Homo sapiens: one gene and its partners. The protein of the gene in region 2 purifies or fractionates together with the protein of the main gene of each other region. This does not show direct contact. Each region holds a gene or a part of one and is shown on either strand. Other genes may lie near its edges. The genes, in order: HK1, SERPINB6, XYLB, USP46 and YTHDF3.

Region 1 (3,500 bases), on a different chromosome or scaffold from region 2:
CCCCATGTAGTCCAAGAAGTCAGAGATGCAGGAGACAATGTGATCAAACAGCTGCAGGGGAAAAGAAAGGATCGCCCGTGCTCTCTGTGGTTTTAATTTTATCAGTGCACATGGACCAAAGTGTGTATACACACACACACGTAGGAAAACACACCCCACACACATGCAGAGTGAGCCTCCTTTTCCAGAATCTTCTCAGCCACCAGAGTGTCACAAGCCAGGCATGGCAAAAAGCATCTGGTGCTTCTGGGCCACAAGGACACAAATCCATGTGGGCACCCCGTGGCGGATTTTGGTCATCACGTGACTGCCGGTGCCACTGGCCGTGTGTGCAGTGCACATGCACTATGGTTTTGTAATCTCACCTCTTCCCCAGTGCCCTGCATGATTTCAATAGGAATGGCGTAGATCTTGTTGTGCATTTCCACCGTTCTCTTTTTCCCACTACGGATTTTCACCAGCAGCACACGGAAATTGGTTCCTCCAAGATCCAGGGCCAAGAAGTCACCATTCTCTGTTGCAGTCAAAAGCGTAAAGAATGTCAAAAACAGCTAAGTGCCTCTTGGCAGCCAGTAACCCCAAGACTCCAGACTTTCAAGGGGAGAACCCCATAGCAAACATAGAGGAGAAGCTGCAACTCCTCCCTTTAGGACACAGCACAGACTCAGAGGAAGAGTGGGCACCACATCTCTGACCACCACAGACTTGGAGCCACACTGGGAGGAGAGCATGTGAGTAAACCACCTGTCACAATACACAGACTTCACCAGGGCTGCAACAATGAAAATCTCCTACAAAAAATAATAATTTATGTCAAGGTGTGGGGTATTTGCAAAAACAGCTGCATCATTCCCTTCCCTGCATGTGCAAAATCCTTCTTTGCAACATGACTGCAGTTCCTCCCACTGAAACATGGAGTCAATTTCTCCTCCCCTGGGATCTAGCCCAGCCCTAGGATTGTTCAGGCCAACAGAGTGTGGCAGAGGCAAAGCTGAACCTATCCCCAGCCTGGGCTTCCAGGAGGCTTTGAAGTCTTCCCCTCTCCCTCGCAGCCCTTGCTGCCACCACTTGAACAGCCAGGTGGCCCACTGAAGGATGAGACACAGGGCCAGGGGCCCCTGCACCCCAGCTGACAGCCAACTGCTGGACATGTGGGGAAGGGCGTCTGAGATCTGCCTCCCAGCTGACTCAACAGCTGACTGCAGATGCAGGAATGAGGCCGGCAGAGGTCAGCCAATCCTGGCCCTGATGAGCAGAACTGTCCAACTGACCCACAGATGCATGAACAATAATAAAGCGTGGTTGTTTTAAGCCACTAAGTGTGAGGGTGGCTTATAATGTGGTATTAGGTAACTTACACATAGGACACATTCCTGTCACAAACATTCGTTACTCCAAGGACCCACCTGAAAAGCTCTTCAGATTCCCCATAATGATCAGCTCCAGTGAAAACTACCAAGGTTAGCATAAAGGGTTGGATTTTGTTCTACAATTTGCCTGAATGCGAAACTCCCCAGGCCCTGAATGCCTCATGCATACTCTATCAAGATTTAAGAAGGGTACACTGAGTGTTTATCCTTCTGCTGGCTTTCCTTGGCTTTGGGAAAACCTAATCAGTGCTGTGGGATTTGCCCAGCTTTTAAGAACACTTCTTTTTTATTCATTTAATTTTTTTTGAGACAGGGTCTTGCTATGTTGCCCAGACTGGTCTTGAACTCCTGGGCTCAAGCAGTCCTCCCACCTCAGCCTCTTAAGTAGCTGGATGACAGGCGTGTGTCACCTTGCCCAGCTAAGAGCACTGTTCTGAGCAGGGCTGTGGTTTTAGAGATAGCACTTGCCTGGGAGGTCTGACCAGGAAAATTAAACTGCCCTGAGTCACACACATGACAAATCAGTTAATAAAAATGGAAAACAGAGATGTGAGGGAGTTTCTAGCTCTGGCAAAATCGTGCATCACCAGTGTGAAGGCATCCACTGGCGAATCCAACCTCCCCCACTGCGGCTCAGTTCCTGGCAGGAGCAGGACAGGCATGTCAGCCCCCAGCAGGCCCTCACCGGTCCCGTCGGGAGTTCTCCGGACGAAGGAGGGCAGCATCTTAACCACGGCATTGTTGTGCGTCTGCTTCCTCAGCCCCAGCTCCATCTCGGCCCGCATCCTCTTCTTCACCTCCAGCAGCATGTCCTTGGTGAGGTGGAAATGAGCCAGGGTCTCCTCTATCTGCCGGTGCTGCTCGGCCAAGCGGTAGGCCACCGCCGTCACCATGGCAGCCCCCTTGCCGCTGCCACTCTCCGAGAGGAGGAAGCGCACATCGGAGTCTGGCACCAAGCGCCTTAGAGTCTTGTGGAAACGCCGGGAATACCTTATGGGGGCAGGGGGGACATTCCACAACAGCTGGACTGAGCATTTATTGGGGACCTCCGGCCACCCTTTCTTTCTCCACTCTTTAACTCTTTTTTCTTTTCCTTTTTTTTGAGACAGGGTCTTGCTCTGTCACCCAGGCTGGAGTGCAATGGCACAATCACAGCTCACTGCTGCCTCAACCTCCCAGGTTCAGGTGATCCTCCCACCTTAGCCTCCCGAGTAGCTGGGGCCACGCCCGGCTAACTTTTTTGTATTTTTAGTAGAGACAGGGTTTCGCCATGTTGCCCAGGCTGGTCTCAAACTTCTAGGTTCAAGCTATCCACCCGCCTCAGCTTCCCAAGTGCTGGGATTACAGGCATGGGCCACTGTGCCCAGCCTAATTCCATTTTCTGCACCTGCTTTTTTCATTACACAAATCATATACATCCACTGTAGAAAAGTTAGCAAATGCAGAGAGGTAAAAAGGAAAAATGAAATCGTTCATAATCACACATAAAAAGAGAAGACTCTCATTATTACATGAGTATCACATACAAAAAATTCCAGGTCTAAAAAGATTTTGCCCTCCACCATGACAGGAAGATAATACAGCACAGTGGTCAAAAGCACGGTGTTCAAAAGTCAGATGGGGCCAAGTGCGAGGTGGCTCATGCCTGTAATCCCAGTACTTTGGGAGGCCAAGGCAGGTGGATCACCTGAGGTCAGGAGTTCAAGACCAGTCTGGCCAACATGGTGAAACCCCGTCTCTACTAAAAATACAAAAATTAGCTGGGTATGGTGGCAGATGCCTGTAATTCCAGCTACTCGGGAGGCTGAGGCAGGAGAATTGCTGGAACCTGGGAGGCAGAGGTTGCAGTGAGCTGAGAGCACACCACTCCGCTCCACTCCAGCCTGGGCAACAGGGCAAGACCCTGCCTTCAAAAAAAAAAAAAAAAAAAGGTTAAGATGATATACTTCATGTTATGTGTATTTTACCACAATCTAAAAAAATTCTAATGTGATGCTGCAAATCCCTAGGCTTTCTTGTCCAAAAAATTAGCCAAGAAATTACAAAGAAAAAAGAAAGAAATGGCTAATAAAAGTTTCATTATCAAGATTTTTGCAAATACTTTAAAAATATTTTAAAAATACAATTACG
Region 2 (3,475 bases):
GTGGTGGCTCACGCCTGTAATCCCAGCACTGTGGGAGGCCCGGGCAGGTGGATCACCTGAGGTCAGGAGTTCGAGACCAACCTGACCAACATGGTGAAACCCCGTCTCTACTAAAAATGCAAAAATTAGCCGGGCATAGTGGCACACACCTGTAATCCCAGCTACTCAAGAGGCCACGGCAGGAGAATCACCTGAACCCGGGAGGCGGAGGCTGCAGTGTTCCGAGATGGCACCACTGCACTCCAGCCTGGGCAACAAGAGAGAAACTCTGTCTTGGAAAAAATAAAAAATAAAAAAAAAAAATAAGCATGGCTGTGTTTCAGTAAACCTTTAAAAAAAATTAGGTGGTGGGCTGGCTTTGCTGTAGGCTGAAGTTTGCTGACCCCTGCCTTCAGTAATTCCTCCCTGCACCCCTTCAGGGTCCAAAGCCTCCAATCTTGCAATATAAAAAGATCTAACCTTAGTGACTGAATGATTCACTAAATACACAATTATATAGACAAGTTCCAGTTTATATAGAAGGTAATGAAATTAAAATAAGAATCTGTATCAACTCAAAATCTGTGCCCTTGGAGGTACACCTCTGGCCTCAGGCTGGTACGCTCAATACTGCAGCCCCTTCCTTCACCCTTCTTCACTGCAGAACTCAGAAAGCATGACGGGATTCCACATCTCCCCAAACCCACAAGACCTATAGTTCTGGCCTACACCATATAGAAAGCAGCTTTCCCTTTCTGAAACGCAGAACCACTAAGGGGAAGGTTTAGGCTCCCCTCCCCTCCCTTGTTCCTCCCCCTCCCTGCCACCGGGACTGCTGAAGCCAGCTCAGCCATCTTGTGACCATGAGGAAGAAGGCGACGTGCTGAGAATGGTGGAGCCGCCTCCCTGGGATCATCGCCCCAGTGCCAGACCAGCCCAGGTCTCACCTGCCTCCAGACCTCCTAGCAGGGGAGATGAGCTCCTAGGAGATAAACCATGGTGAACCGGGGTTTCTGTTATCTGTAGTCAAAGCCCTTGTACATCTTGTTAATCATTAAATTTTAAAGAGAGAAATTATTTTGCCAGGGGAAAATAGCACAGTTCATTTCAGAATAAAGCTTCAAAGAAAATAATTCTTTCTGAATTGCGAGGAGAACAGACAATGAAAATAAATTTCTTGAAAAACTGAAGGCTCAAGTTCAAGTTAGCCTGGAAGATCTAACTATGGTCAATGATCAAGAATACACTGTAATTAATCTATTCTGTTTACTTTGTCTATGTTCAAAAATTTCTATAGTTAAAGAAAAACAAAACAAGAGACAATAAAGAAGATTCAGTGAGAGGAAGATAAAGGGCCATCAGCAAATGACATCTTCCACGCTGGAGGTGGTTAATCTCAGTGTCTATCTACATGTTTGGTTTGGTTGTTTTAAAACAAAAATCTGTACTTATCCTTACTATCAAGAGAGGACTGAATATCACTCATCGGTTCAGCATTTACTAAGCACCAGCTACGTGTCTGGCACTTGTCAGAGAGTCCTCCCTGCTCAGCCTCAATTCAGCAGGCTGAGTTGTTCCGCTCCTGCAGTGTGGCACGGAGGCCAGCAGGAGGCGCGGTAGCGGGGCTTCCCGGGACGCCGCCAGAAAGAAAGGAGTGGGTAGGTCCTGATGGGAATGAAGCTAGAGAAAAGGAGGAAATGTCCGCTAGAAGATGGCACGCCATATCTGGAGTCTGAGCTTTAAGACCTTGATCGAGCCTGAGGGCTGCAGCTTCAGACTTGCCCTGTAGGTGGCAGGGCGGATGCCAGGCGCCCAGGGACACGAGGCCACCCAATGGATGTCAAGCAGGAGGGGCAGGGACAGAAAGGCCCCACGGCTGCAGACGCGGGAGGCCCCGAGCCGGAGACGCTCGTGTGAACACAGGCGCTGCTCCTGTCACGGCCCCTTACTCGCCTTGCTGACTTTAAACAGTCTCTCCTCGGTGTTCTCCTTGTCAAACTGTTCATCCCAGTTTCCTCTGAAATAGACAGCATTCACCAGAACCAGCCTTGTCAATGGATCCACTGAGCCCGGAGAGAGCAACTCCGCAATTTTACCTGAGCGGAAGAATTCAAGACCGCATTAGATAGGGGCGGCTGCGGATCCCCGACACATCAGGAATCGGCTGGGGCCTTCTCCTTCAGCAGTCAAGTGCACGGATAGAGAGTTCCACTGTCCCCCAAATATAAAGGGATACGTGTCCTTAAAGCAAAACAACAAAATCTTCTGGTACGAAAAACATCATCAATTGAATAAAACACACAAAGTGAACAAATATGCGTTAATTATGCAGGATGAGTTCCTAACACATGAGATAAGAAGCAATCATGGGTGCCTATGACTTAAAGACAAGAACTTAAAGGATTATCAAAAAGGTGGGCAGTCAGAAGATGTTCTTTACAAGCTTAAAGAACAGTTAGGCCAGACACAGTGGCTCACACCTATAATTCCAGCAGTTTGGGAGGCTGAGGTGTGAGGATCACTTGAGGCCAGGAGTTTGAGACCAACCTGGACAACATAGTGAGGCCTTGTCTCTTAAAAAAAAAATTTATTAAAATTAGCTGGGCATGGTGGTGCTACCTGTAGTCCCAATTACTTGGGAGACTGAAGCAGGAGGACCGCTTGAGCACAAGAATTGATGCTGTAATCCCAGCACTTTGGGAGGCCAAGGCGGGTGGATCACGAGGTCAAGAGATTGAGATCATCCTGGCCAACATGGTGAAAACCTGTCTCTACTAAAAAATACAAAAATTAGCAGGGCATGGTGGCACGTGCCTGTGATCCCAACTACTTGGGAGGTTGAGATAGGAGAATCACTTGAACCTGGGAGGCAGAGGTTGCAATGAGCCAAGATTGCACCATTGCACTCCAGCCTGGGCAATAAGAGCAAAACTCCATCTCAAAGAAAAAAAAAGAAAATTGAGGCTGCAGTGAATTGTGATTGTGTCACTGCATTCCAGCCTAGGTGACAGAGGGAGACCTTGTCTCAAAAAAAAAAAAAAAAAAAGTTTAAATTAAGAACCACAGATAGACCAGGGCGTGACCCAGTGTCCCACAGCAATGCATGGCAACTGTAGACTGTGCTACCCAAGAGGGAGGCAGCTTGAGATCCACACTGCGAATTTTTTATGTTACTTGTGAAAGGAAAAACTATATTAACATTAACACACTAACCCCCTCCTCAAAATTAAAACGTGGATTGATCCAGAAGAGGTATACCAAACACTGAAAGGCATCACGGGTACACCAAGGAAACAGGGAGAAATCAGAGAGAACAGAACACATTGAGCATTTCCAAAATGTCAAATAATGGCAACTGATTTCAGAAGCAGATTTTTTAAGTTTGCAGTTATTCAGAGAAAAAAAAATCATTCCTGTTTACAATTGACAGTCTTGTGAAGGAACTGACAATAAAATGGATTAAGAGGTTATTACAAAAGTAGAATAACAATACATT
Region 3 (4,189 bases), on a different chromosome or scaffold from region 2:
CTCTGAAGGACAGCCAGAAATCCCACCCTTACATCTCACATTCAATTTTGTAACAGGACCTGTCCATTTTACTACTCAGCTCTCTCCTATCCATCATTTCATACCTGAATGACCAGCAAAAACCTCTTTAATAGTTCCCCACGTCCATTCCAGCAATGCTCCGAATCTGTTCTCCCAATGCCCCCAGAGAGATATTTTCAAAACAAAAATACAACCTGTCATTCATACCTCACCCATACCCCTACCCCTTATGGCCCTTAGTGGCTGACCATAGCTTTTAGAATAAAGACAAACTCTATACCATGGCCTATGGAGCTCTGACCAGCCTCCGCCTCTCTCTGCTCCCCAGCATCATTGGCTTTCTTCAATTGCATGAAGGAATGAACCATGCTCTTTCTTGCCACAGGGCCCTCGCACATGTTGTTCCTTCTGCCTGGAATGCTCTTCCATCACCTGGCCAACTTCCCTTCCATCGCTTGGCTAACTTCACTCACTCTGATCTCTAGCTTAAGCACCACTTCCCTAGAGACGCTCTGGGACTTCCCCTCCCAAGTCTGAGTCACATTCCTTTATAATAAGCACTTGGAGAAGTGAGTTCCTTTCCTTCAGAGGCCTTCTCAGAGTTTATAATGAAACACTCTTTTGTGAGATTCTTTGTTTGATACCAGTCTCCACTACTCAGTGGGAAGCTCTGGGAGAGCTTTCTCTTTTTGTTTCGCCATCAGGTCCTAGCACCTGGCACAAAGTAGGTCTCAACTGATGCTTACTTCATGAATGGATGAATGGAATTAGGAAGAAATGGGGGAGATGGCACTCTAGGTATAGGAAAAAAAGATGCTTGAAAGGTCTGCCGAGACCACCACTCCTGTATTTGGCAAAGCCTCAACAGTGCGGTCTGCGAATACAAAAGTTTGCGGGAGGACCCCAAAACCAACACCCCCATCACACACACATGCACATCAAGTACATACCCAAATTCTGGAAGATCTCTGTCAAAATGCACACTTTCCTCATAGAAGACATTCAACTCTGCATCAACAGCAACAACCTTTACCTGAAAGGCATTTTAAAAAAGGAAGTGTAGAATTTTCCTCAGCTTCTACACTGGTCCAGGGGGTACTAACGTCACCAGATGAGGCCCCACACCCTAGGAGCAGTTCAACCTAGAGACCTCCTTGAAGGCAGGGCTGCCTCACCGTAATCGTGGTAACAGAGGACTCATCTGGGGTAACACTCAAAGATTTAGTAAAATGAAGAAACTGAGGCTAAGTAGGAACACCCACATGTCTCAAGGAATCTTTGTTCCCCAAATAGCCAAAGCCAAGACCCTCTAGAGGAAGATGTTCACAGATGAGTTGGTTCGTGCACCTGACAAGGAGGCGGGAGAAAGTGCCAGAGAGGAAGGAATGGGAAGCAAGGTTTGGAGGCATCTCTGGGGATCCATGTCTGCAGAGGCCTGAGACCAGGCAAGGCCATGGGCTATTCTCACAGGCCATGATTGTGGTCCAGAGACATTAATGTCCCACTGAAGCAATCTCCAAGCTTGGGAGTATAACTCCTTTCCTGGACAGATGGGAAAACTGAGGTCCAGCAAGGCAACTCGAGTCATCCAGAGTCCCACAGGACGTTCCCCCAAGGACTGGCCAGAGGCCTGCCTCCCTTGACCCATTCGAGAAGAGGGGTTTGACTGCAACTGTGTATATTTCCCAAGTACTTTAAAGGAAAAGGTGCCCCCGGTCACCCCATGCCCTCTTTGAAGGCAAATTTTGATTTGCTTGCCTGTCTGCAGGGCGTTGGCAGCAGCACACTGCTCCTCTGGCCAGCAGTCCTGGGTGCACAGACCAGGCAAGCTGGTGTCAACGAAGGGCGGTCACAGGGTAAAGTCCACTTGTACACTATGCATTTCACTTTTTTCTTTTTTTTTTTTTGAGACAGGGTCCCGTTCTGTCGCCCAGGCTGGAGACCGGTGACGCCATCTTAGCTCACTGCAATCTCCACCTCCTGGGCTCAAGCGATCCGCTTCAGCCTCCAGAAAAACTGGGACTACAGGTGTGCTCCACCATGCCCGGCTAATTTTTGTATTTTCTGGTAGAGACCGGGGTTTCTCCATATTGCCCAGGCTGGTCTCGAACTCCTGGGCTCAAGCGATCCACTCGCCTCGGCCTCCCAAAGTGCTGGGATTACCGGCAAGAGCCACCAGGCCTGGGCCATTTCAATTTTTAAAAAAAGGTTTTGGGCTATAATCTGCTTCCAGGTCACTGGTTGTGCATGTGCGCAGGGCTACCCGCCTGTCTGTTCCCCTGCCTTACAGTAGCTGACTTCCTTCGGATCCCCGTCACTGGGTGCCCAGAACAGCGCAGGAACCCGCCGAGTCCTCCGGCCCCTCTGGGCACCGGGGGTCCTGCCGAGGAGCGCCTGCAGTTTCCTGGGGTAGCTGGGTCCAGGCGGGGTCGAGGCCGCATCTTGCGAGCGGGTGGCATTGGCAGGGCATCTCCGGGCGAGGGCACCGGCGCCCCACGGCCGCGCGCAGGGCAGGGGCGCGGGGGCCCCGGGAAGCCCGAGAGGTAGGCGCGCCCGCGGCCGGGCCCATGTTTTCCCGCGTCCGGGTGACAGCCCGCCCCCTACCCCCACCGAAGCGGAGGAGGCGGCCCCGTGGCCCTGCGGCCAGGCGACTGTACCTGCTGCGTGCTGAAGTCCCAGCCCAGGCAGCAGCGGCGAGGGGCGTGCTCCGCCATGGCCTTTCGGGTAAGGCTGCGCGTCCGTCAGTCCGTCCGTCCGCCACGCGGCGTGATAGTCGCCGCGCTCCAGCGCCCAGAGACGCAGGGGCCCGCCCCTAGCTCCGCCCGGCCGGACTGTGGACCGGAGTCACGAGGCGGGCTTGCGCTCTGGCGCCGCCTGCGGGGCTACGCGAGCCGGGACCGCGTCCTGTGCAATCGACGGTGCCCCCACGCAGCCCGCTTTCCTTCGAAGCGCACCCCCTCTGGTTCTCCCCATCTTCATCTTATGTCTTCATGGGCCGTGCCCTGACACCGCCTGGCTTCCCTTAGAGGACGCCTGGGCCAGAGGTTTCAGCTATAAGCCGGCTTGTCTTTCAGAGGGAGCCTGCCTGTCCTTCTGGAGGCCCTGGGCCTGCCGTCCTCTGTGGCTGTATCTTGGCACTGGAGCAGCTGTCCACCCATGGTGGTGACTCAGGGGCCACAGGGAAATGGGCCCTGGGGTTGGAAGCACTGAGTCCTGACAAGCCCTATCCAGATCCAGCAAATCTGAATGGTTCCCAGTGTGTCACATCCCACCTGTGTATTTAAACTCAGCGGCTCCTGATGCCCCCACGGGGAGACACTCCTTCCTGGAGTCAATTGGTATTGATGGTCTAATGTGTGCCAGGCATGGTAAAGGGGAATGAGAACCAGAGTCAGACCCACTCCTTTTATTCATGGAGCTGAGGGCGCCTGTCCCACCAGCTACATCCTTCCCGTCCCTAAGACTAACTGCTTTCCAGAATTCCTCCCCAAACCCAGCATGTGAGAGGCTCCTCCTACGAACTTCCCAGCCCACCAGTGCCCTTTTCATGCACTTGCAATGGTCTGTCTCCCTTGCTGAACTTGAGCTGCTTGGAGTCTACATGGGATCCTCTTCACTGCTAGAACAAGAAGGGGCCAACATACTTGTCCTCCAAGACATTCACAGCTTATTGGGGACTCAGCCCCTCCAGCAGTCACCACCTGTGACAATAGACAAATACTGGATACTAGCTAGATCAGAAACAATTATGCAACCTGCTGAGCACATTTAATCGTCACAATGATGCTGGGAAGTAGGTACTATTATCTCCACTTTTAAAAAATTTTAAATAAAGGTATCTAAGTATCTAATCTAATTAAGATTAGATTACTGCATTTTAATCTAATCTTAACTGCTTGATGACTTTTTTTTTTTTTTTTGACAGAGTTTCACTCCTGTCACCCAGGCTGGAGTGCAGTGGCGTGATCTCCGGTCACTGCAACCTCCACCTCCCTGGTTCAACTGATTCTTCTGCCTCAGCCTCCCATGTAGCTGGGATTACAGGCGCACACCACCGCACCCAGCTAATTTTTTTTTTTTTTTGAAACGGAGTTTCACTCTTGTTGCCCAGGCTGGAGTGCAATGGCGTGATTTCAGCTCATTGAAACCTCTGCCTTCTGGGTTCAAG
Region 4 (3,521 bases), on a different chromosome or scaffold from region 2:
GCTGCAACTGTGGGCCAGGAGGTCCTGGCATGGAAGGGAAGGCAGGCCCAGCTCCCTAACCTCAAAGCTTTCCAGTGCTACCTGGAAGCCACCCAATCCGCAAGCATAGGCCAGCCCTGCTCCACATAGGAGAACAATGCTACTTCTGTGGGGAGGAGTTTGAAGAATCCTAGTTAGTGGCATGCATGACTTGGCACCAACTGAGCTCTGCTACCAGGGCTCTTCTGACCTTGTGCTCACATTACAGAAACTGACCTTAGAGAACCCAACCTCCCGCTGAACGTCCAGTTCCCTTACCTGTGTCTCTGCCAGTCCTCCCAAGGATTTGAATTGGGCACCCACAGAGACCCACACTGAAAGTCCTGTGTACCCTGTGCAAGGGGCCCTCCTGTCCACACCACCCCTGCCACCCACTTTAGCCACAATGCCCACCAGGTCCCAGGCTCTGCCTGCCCTAAGATCTTCCCCAACCCTGCACCAATGTGAGGCCTCATCCAGTGCTCAAGGCTGGGTTCCAGATCACTGGAACCCTGTGTTCTTCAAAAGAATAACAGGTGTTCTTTAGGGAGAACACCACAAAACTGGCATATAACTAGCCAATAAATATCATTTTACTGAGAATACAAGAAAATATCCAGTGACTTAAAGTTAATACACACAGGATAAAATATGGGGTGCTTCAGATGTGAAGTTATACAGTTTCTGATGCCATCTACCCTAGTACACAATTAAAAATATATCAACCTATTCCTCTGCGTGGCAATGGTAGTCTCCTGGTAATGGTGTATTCACCATAATCCGACCTTAACAGATGGAGGAGAAAGACTCTTGCTCTATGACATGCCCCAATCTAAAACCTATGAGGGCAGGGGGAAAGCTGTGCCTACTCCCAAGACAGAACATAAACCTGTCCCAACTGAGCAAAGAATAACAAACAGGTGAATTTTCAAGATACTTTTCTTCCCTTATACCAAATTATGGAATAAAAAATAGCTGCTCAAAGGAATTTTGGCAAAATGCTTTGCCTCTCCATATCTAGAGGCCTTCTCTCTCTTATCTTTTTTCTGATTATATACTTATTACAGAATGTTGGGGAAAGACCAAAAATAACAAAGAATATTTTTTAAGAATATATTTTTAATCACTCAAAGTGCCAAAAAATTATTAAATTTGATCCATTGCTTCTAGTCTTTATTTACACATCTTAAAATACTTTTGAGATCATACTGTAAATGCAACTTGGCTTTTTAAAAATTAAAATCATAGCATAGACATTTATTTCTCCATGTTATTTCAAATTCTTCATAACCATCGTTTTCATGCAATGGAGATTTATTAAGTAATTTCTCTCATGATAGAACATTTAGATTATCATTACTGGAATGCTCTTTATTTTATGTGCCTGCAGGCATGTTTATATATTTTTTGTGATGATCAGTAAGAGTTTGGCAGAGATCCCAAAACTATTGAGTGCCACGGCCCAGGAAAGGTGCAGCTGGGTATACTTCAGCGAAGAGGCAACCCTTACACTTACCCTGTATACCTGCTTCCAGTCTTGCCCTTACCTGCCACAGTGAACGACCACCGCAACCAAGTCATACATGCGGTCCAGGTTCACTGCATCACTGGAGGTGTTGAAGAGCCGGAGTTCCAGAGGGAAGACCACACGGTAAGACAGCTTGGTGTATCTGTGCAGCTGCTCCATGTACTTGAACCGCTTTAGGTGCAGGGCCAAGATCATGGGCAGCTTTTTTACCCTCATCCTAAGAAACCAAGAAATAGAAAATCAGTTGTACCCAACACCTATTAGGGGAAGAGAATACACTGTCATCTGCACAAACAGAATAGTAGGAGGTTCTATCCAACTTCAAACCAGCAAACAACCAAACAGTTTGCAAGGATAAAAGTATGCTGGCATATATAGAGCTGACTTATCCTACATCCCTGGCTCCCAGCAGGAGAAATGTACAATGGTGTGTGTCTGTTTGTTGGAAGGAGACGTTCCAGAATTTTTGTACAAATAAAAATAGGCTGTGCAATTGTTCTCCATCACTGCCCTGTGCCTTCCAGAGAGAAATGATATTTGGACAATCTACCCCCTGAGATGATGGAGAGGAAGGTTGAGAGCTTTTGAGAACAGGAAGCTGGGAAGAGGACAAGGTAGATGATGCCGACTGCTGGACTTACAGGTTCTGAGGACTGGCAGGAGGATGGATGCTTCTGACACACACTCTTGGGCATCGGGACACCAAGCGTGCCAGGCTCACTCTCATTCCGACCCTTGTGATCTTGGGCAAGTCACTTCCCTTCTCTAGCTCTCAGTTTCCTTATTTATAAAATGCAGGGGTTGGCTTAGGGCTACATTTCACAAACTGGGCTCAGGAGAGCACTGGAGATGTTAACAGATGTGGTGTTTCTGTGGCTAAGTAAGTTTGGATGATGCTACTTTCTGCTTTGAAGATCCTATGTGTACATTACCAGACTGAAGACTTTGAGAAATCCTGCAGTAAAGGAATTGTTCTGTTGTTTGATGTTGCACTTCCCAAACTTATATAAACATAGAAAAGTTTTTTTACTAGGTGACCATTAACATTTCTCAGTAAAAAGTCGCAAAGGCAACAGTTTATGCAGAGTACACTGCTAGAATAGAGGGTCTTCCAGTTACCTTCCAGCCCCCATTCCATGAATGTACTGAATTAAGTGTAAATGCCATTTAGTTTGTGTACATTTTTAATGCATAGTATGTGAAAAAGACAAATTTTAGAAGAATAGTTTTAAGGAATCTATTAAGGAAAAGCCCTGTTCATATAAATAAGCAAGTAAAACAACAGTAGAGAAATAAGAAGTATGGGGAACCCCATGTTTTATGGGAACACATGACATTGCAATATATAAACCCCCCAGGGCTGAACAAAAAATGTCTTAATGCCACAAAGGAAGACCCCAGGCCAGCCTTAGGCAGATTGAGGTTATAAGGATGGGGGACAGACATGAGTGACCTTCTTTACTAACAAAAGGTATCTACCTACCTCCTTGAGGACTGCCCGCTAAGGTGACTAACCATCTGTAAGTTTTGCAGCAAAGAAAAGTGTACATGTTTGGAGTGAACGCCTGGGAAGGCTGGGCAGAGAAATGATCTCAACCTCAGGTCTAGACCCCTGAGGGTTTTAGACAGCAGTATTGAGCATCTGCCAGCTGCCTTGAATACTCCAGAACCACTGACAAGATAGATTTAACTCACAGGAAGCCTTCGCAGGATGACTGAAATGGCAACTTTCCTGGCTTGTAGGAGCAGATTAATGGGGGTTATTCCAGATTTTCCAAGAACTGTAACTGTCTAGTGTGCAGGAAAGGTGGTGCAATAACTTTCTAACTTTCTTATCACCTGTTCTTTTTCTTTTTTCTTTTTTTGATACAGAGTCTCACTCTGTCACCCAGGCTGGAGTGCAGTAGTACGATCTCAGCTCACTGTAACCTCTGCCTCCTGGGCTTAAGTGATTCTCCTGCCTCAGCCTCCCGAG
Region 5 (3,521 bases), on a different chromosome or scaffold from region 2:
CAAGATTACATAAACACAAGCCATATATACACTTCCCCTTACCAAAAACTTTAAGTAAATATCCCAATCTCAACACTGTAGTGAGTAAATTGTTACATAAGAATGTTGGAAAGAGTTCCCTAATGCTATATTTGAATGTAAAATAACTATTTCAAGTAGCGTTGTAGGCAATAAAAAAGATTTCTGAATGTTCTCTACCTTTGTTTAAATCTCTAAATTATTTAGTATAATAAAGAATGAAATAACTATTTTCGATCTAATTTGTTATAGTAAATGTCTTAAATGTCTCCAGTAAAGTTTAGGCTAAAATTAACTTGAAACAATATCACAATGAATAGACTTATAATTATGAAATATCTAAATAAAGAGGGCTTTAATTCTAAGCCCCCCAGAATGAAGACTTTCACATGAAACTACAAACAAAATTAAGACACAAAAGATAGCCATAATTATCCTTGCAATACATGAGAAACAAGTCAGAGAATAATTTTGTTCAAAGGTCATCTCCATAAACACTCTAAAGTTGTTATTCTCTGGATGCTGTTTCAGAGTGCTTTTGAGCAGACTCAGAAGTAAGGTCCCGAATTTGAATCTCAAGTCCAGCACTGAGGAGATGATCTCCAGTTAGGGATTTAAACTCTCTAACCTTTGACTGTTCGCTGTTTCAGAAGGTTATGTATGAATAGTACCTACCTCATCTCATCTGATTATTAAATGACAGTGTTCAATAATCTTAAATGTAATCACATTAAATATTACAAGATCCAAATAGGACTAATATGACTTTAGAACCATTTAAACAGAAGTGTTACTAAGCTAATACTTGATGAGGTGGCACTATGTAAATATACTATTCTATACTAGTGAAGATAAAGTTGAAAGTTTCCGATGGATGTCTACAAATTAGAAACAAAAAGAACTCAGTATCTAAAGATTTACTGCTCAAAGGTACAACATCACCAAATTTTATGAAGTTAGGAGGGTGACGGGTTTAAATTGCGTATTCCTCTGTAATATAACATTTTTATTATCCTTAAATTTTCCCATGAGTGTAGAGCACCTAAAATGTAATATTATGAGTTAACAGTGGCTTGGGAGCAAAGATATACAAAATCCCTTAAATCTTTGCCATCCAATGAGTGGCAAAGATCAAAGATATGATGTTACTGTGTAAAGCATTCAAAGTAGACTTCTTACTACACCACACTGCCCCTCAGAGGCCACAAGAAGCAACCTGAAGGTCAACTTGATCCTGGCTCCACTAACATAATTTAACTATGTCTGATAAGGACTGCATCAGAACTAGGATTGAGCTAAATATGCTCCATGGAATTTAAATATGTAATAGCCACTAGAAACCAAAATAAAGAGGGTGCCTTAGGTTACTTCTAGTGCCATTATAAGGCTGGGTTATTCATTTCAGTCCAAGAGATTCTGACATACCTGTTCTCCTCTGACACTGGCTTTACTGCTCCTAAATCAAAGGTAAGTATGCATGGTCTATTACTTCTTGAAAAAAAATTCTTCACTATTACACTCATACATGTTAGTCAGTATTTGAAACAGCTAACAACTTAAAAATTATGACTAACTATCTCTCATATCCACTAGGTTCTCGAAAATCTAGTTCATACAAATACAAAAAGTGCCAGGCCAGGAGCTCAAGACCAGCCTGGGCAACACAGCAAGATCCCACCTTTACGAAAAATGTTTAGAAATTAGCCAGGAGTGGTGGCATGTGCCTATAGTCCTAGTTACTCAGGAGTCTAAGGAGGATCACTTGAGCCAAGGCATTCCAGGTTACACTGAGCTATGATTATGCCACTGCACTCCAGCCTGGGGTACAGAGTGAGACTCTGCCTCTATTTAAAAAAAAAAAAAGGAAAAAGTACTTACTTAAAATTTATCTGTATATATATATAAATATAATCCTGTTATTCTTATTTTTTTTGTTCTATTATTTCTCTTCTAAGAGGCTAGGCCTGAGAACAACCCATATACTATTATAAATACAGTCTACGGTCATTTTTAAATGATGCATAAATGTCTATAAAGTCTTAAAATATAGTACAAAAAGTCAATCTACTTTAAAAAATGTTTAATTAAAAGTACTTCACATATACCGAGAAGCAATTTGCATTAAACTAGCCCTTAAGTTTTGGAAGTGTATCTTAAAGAAAACTATCTTAAAGACTTTCGTTTTTGAATATTTACTTAATGACAAGCTAATGTCTTGGAGTCTGAAAACCATTAAATAGAAATGAAATCCAAGCTAGTTCCATAGTCTGTAAAATTTCTTCAGGGGTAAAAAGAACAGATGACTTACATGATTCTTCGCCTGTTTCCTCTGCTCTATGAAACAGAGTCAAATCAAGATAGAACATGGGCCTTAGGAGCCAGGTGATTCTTTGCTCTGGTCCTGACTACATCAAGTTAGGAAAGTCAACAGATCTGTGCATCATGTTTCCCCACCTACAAAAACAGCGACAATACCATATACCCGCTATCTCCTTACAAGGATGTTGTGAGGATTGATAAAATGAAGCCTAAAATAATGATAGTAAAGTGCTTTGAAATCATTTCTCGGGAGGACGAGGAGAGAATACAACAGAATATTGCCAAAATATAAGGCATTTTCCACTACTTTTCGAAAATTAAAACTTAGCCAAATTTAACCTAATTATTTTAAATTACAGTTGTATAAAACAATGCATACGTCTCTCCGTTGGAAGAGAGCGGAGAGGAGGAAAAAGATAAATCCTGTTCCATGAATTTGCTATTTATAAACTTAGAGGAGAAAGGAGGCAGTAAGGCCTAAGACTGTAAGTATGGCATCTGACACTTCCAACCATAGTACTCCCAAATAAAAGTACTGCACACCTTTATTCCAATAAGCAAAAATTCTACTTAATAAAAAAATAAAATACGAAGTGTTAAATTATGAACCAATAGGCAAATAATTATCCTTAAATTTCTACTATCCTTTGGTACTACTCTTGCCAAGGATAATAAAGAGTTCTGATATTTAACACAGGGACAGACTTAATTAAAAAAGAATTCAAACTTATAAAACAAGTAAACCTTGAATTATTACTTATTCTACAAAAAACATTTTTGCCATATCAAAGACAATTATTTAGAATTCCTTTTGGCTTCTGTAATGAATTAAGTAATTAAGGATATATAGAAAATCAAAGACACTAAAACTAGGTGTTAGGCTAAAGCTGTCAACTAAAGACAATTCAGAAAAGAAACAGGATCTCTGAAATTATAGTAAGTTGACTGAAAAGGATTACGTGTTCAAAACTTTAACTGACACCAACTTCTCAAGGACATACTATTTTTCATAAGCTTGCTAAGTTCAGAATTCAAGATTACTCATATTTAGAATACTGAGGTTGCAGTTCAAGAAAAATAACTTCATGAAAGTAAACAGAATTGTAAAACAATTTTACGAGCTGGGAACAAGCTAAGGCAGAAAAGCTTTTCTCAAATACACACATAGCTACTTATATCAGGTT

Evidence for each region.
Region 1: the proteins of SERPINB6 (region 2) and HK1 purify together in Homo sapiens (co-immunoprecipitation; one large-scale study listed by IntAct). This does not show direct contact.
Region 3: the proteins of SERPINB6 (region 2) and XYLB fractionate together in Homo sapiens (co-fractionation; one large-scale study listed by BioGRID). This does not show direct contact.
Region 4: the proteins of SERPINB6 (region 2) and USP46 purify together in Homo sapiens (co-immunoprecipitation; one large-scale study listed by IntAct). This does not show direct contact.
Region 5: the proteins of SERPINB6 (region 2) and YTHDF3 fractionate together in Homo sapiens (co-fractionation; one large-scale study listed by BioGRID). This does not show direct contact.

Annotation. Positions count from the first base shown.
Region 1 is NC_000010.11:69,381,347-69,384,846, reverse strand, and holds part of HK1 (hexokinase-1), read right to left. Parts: intron 2,361-3,500; coding exon 2,056-2,360; intron 515-2,055; coding exon 366-514; intron 52-365; coding exon 1-51. UniProt on the Homo sapiens protein: Catalyzes the phosphorylation of various hexoses, such as D-glucose, D-glucosamine, D-fructose, D-mannose and 2-deoxy-D-glucose, to hexose 6-phosphate (D-glucose 6-phosphate, D-glucosamine 6-phosphate, D-fructose 6-phosphate, D-mannose 6-phosphate and 2-deoxy-D-glucose 6-phosphate, respectively).
Region 2 is NC_000006.12:2,951,112-2,954,586, forward strand, and holds part of SERPINB6 (serpin B6), read right to left. Parts: intron 2,076-3,475; coding exon 1,933-2,075; exon of another isoform or gene 1,929-1,932; intron 1-1,928.
Region 3 is NC_000003.12:38,345,415-38,349,603, reverse strand, and holds the start of XYLB (xylulose kinase), read right to left. Parts: upstream 2,820-4,189; 5' UTR 2,736-2,819; coding exon 2,679-2,735; intron 2,672-2,678; exon of another isoform or gene 1,780-2,671; intron 1,058-1,779; exon of another isoform or gene 1,055-1,057; coding exon 972-1,054; intron 1-971. UniProt on the Homo sapiens protein: Phosphorylates D-xylulose to produce D-xylulose 5-phosphate, a molecule that may play an important role in the regulation of glucose metabolism and lipogenesis.
Region 4 is NC_000004.12:52,600,292-52,603,812, forward strand, and holds part of USP46 (ubiquitin carboxyl-terminal hydrolase 46), read right to left. Parts: intron 1,764-3,521; coding exon 1,566-1,763; intron 1-1,565. UniProt on the Homo sapiens protein: Deubiquitinating enzyme that plays a role in behavior, possibly by regulating GABA action. May act by mediating the deubiquitination of GAD1/GAD67.
Region 5 is NC_000008.11:63,171,604-63,175,124, reverse strand, and holds part of YTHDF3 (YTH domain-containing family protein 3), read right to left. Parts: intron 2,473-3,521; exon of another isoform or gene 2,385-2,472; coding exon of another isoform or gene 2,327-2,384; intron 1,475-2,326; exon of another isoform or gene 1,444-1,474; intron 1-1,443. UniProt on the Homo sapiens protein: Specifically recognizes and binds N6-methyladenosine (m6A)-containing RNAs, and regulates their stability. M6A is a modification present at internal sites of mRNAs and some non-coding RNAs and plays a role in mRNA stability and processing.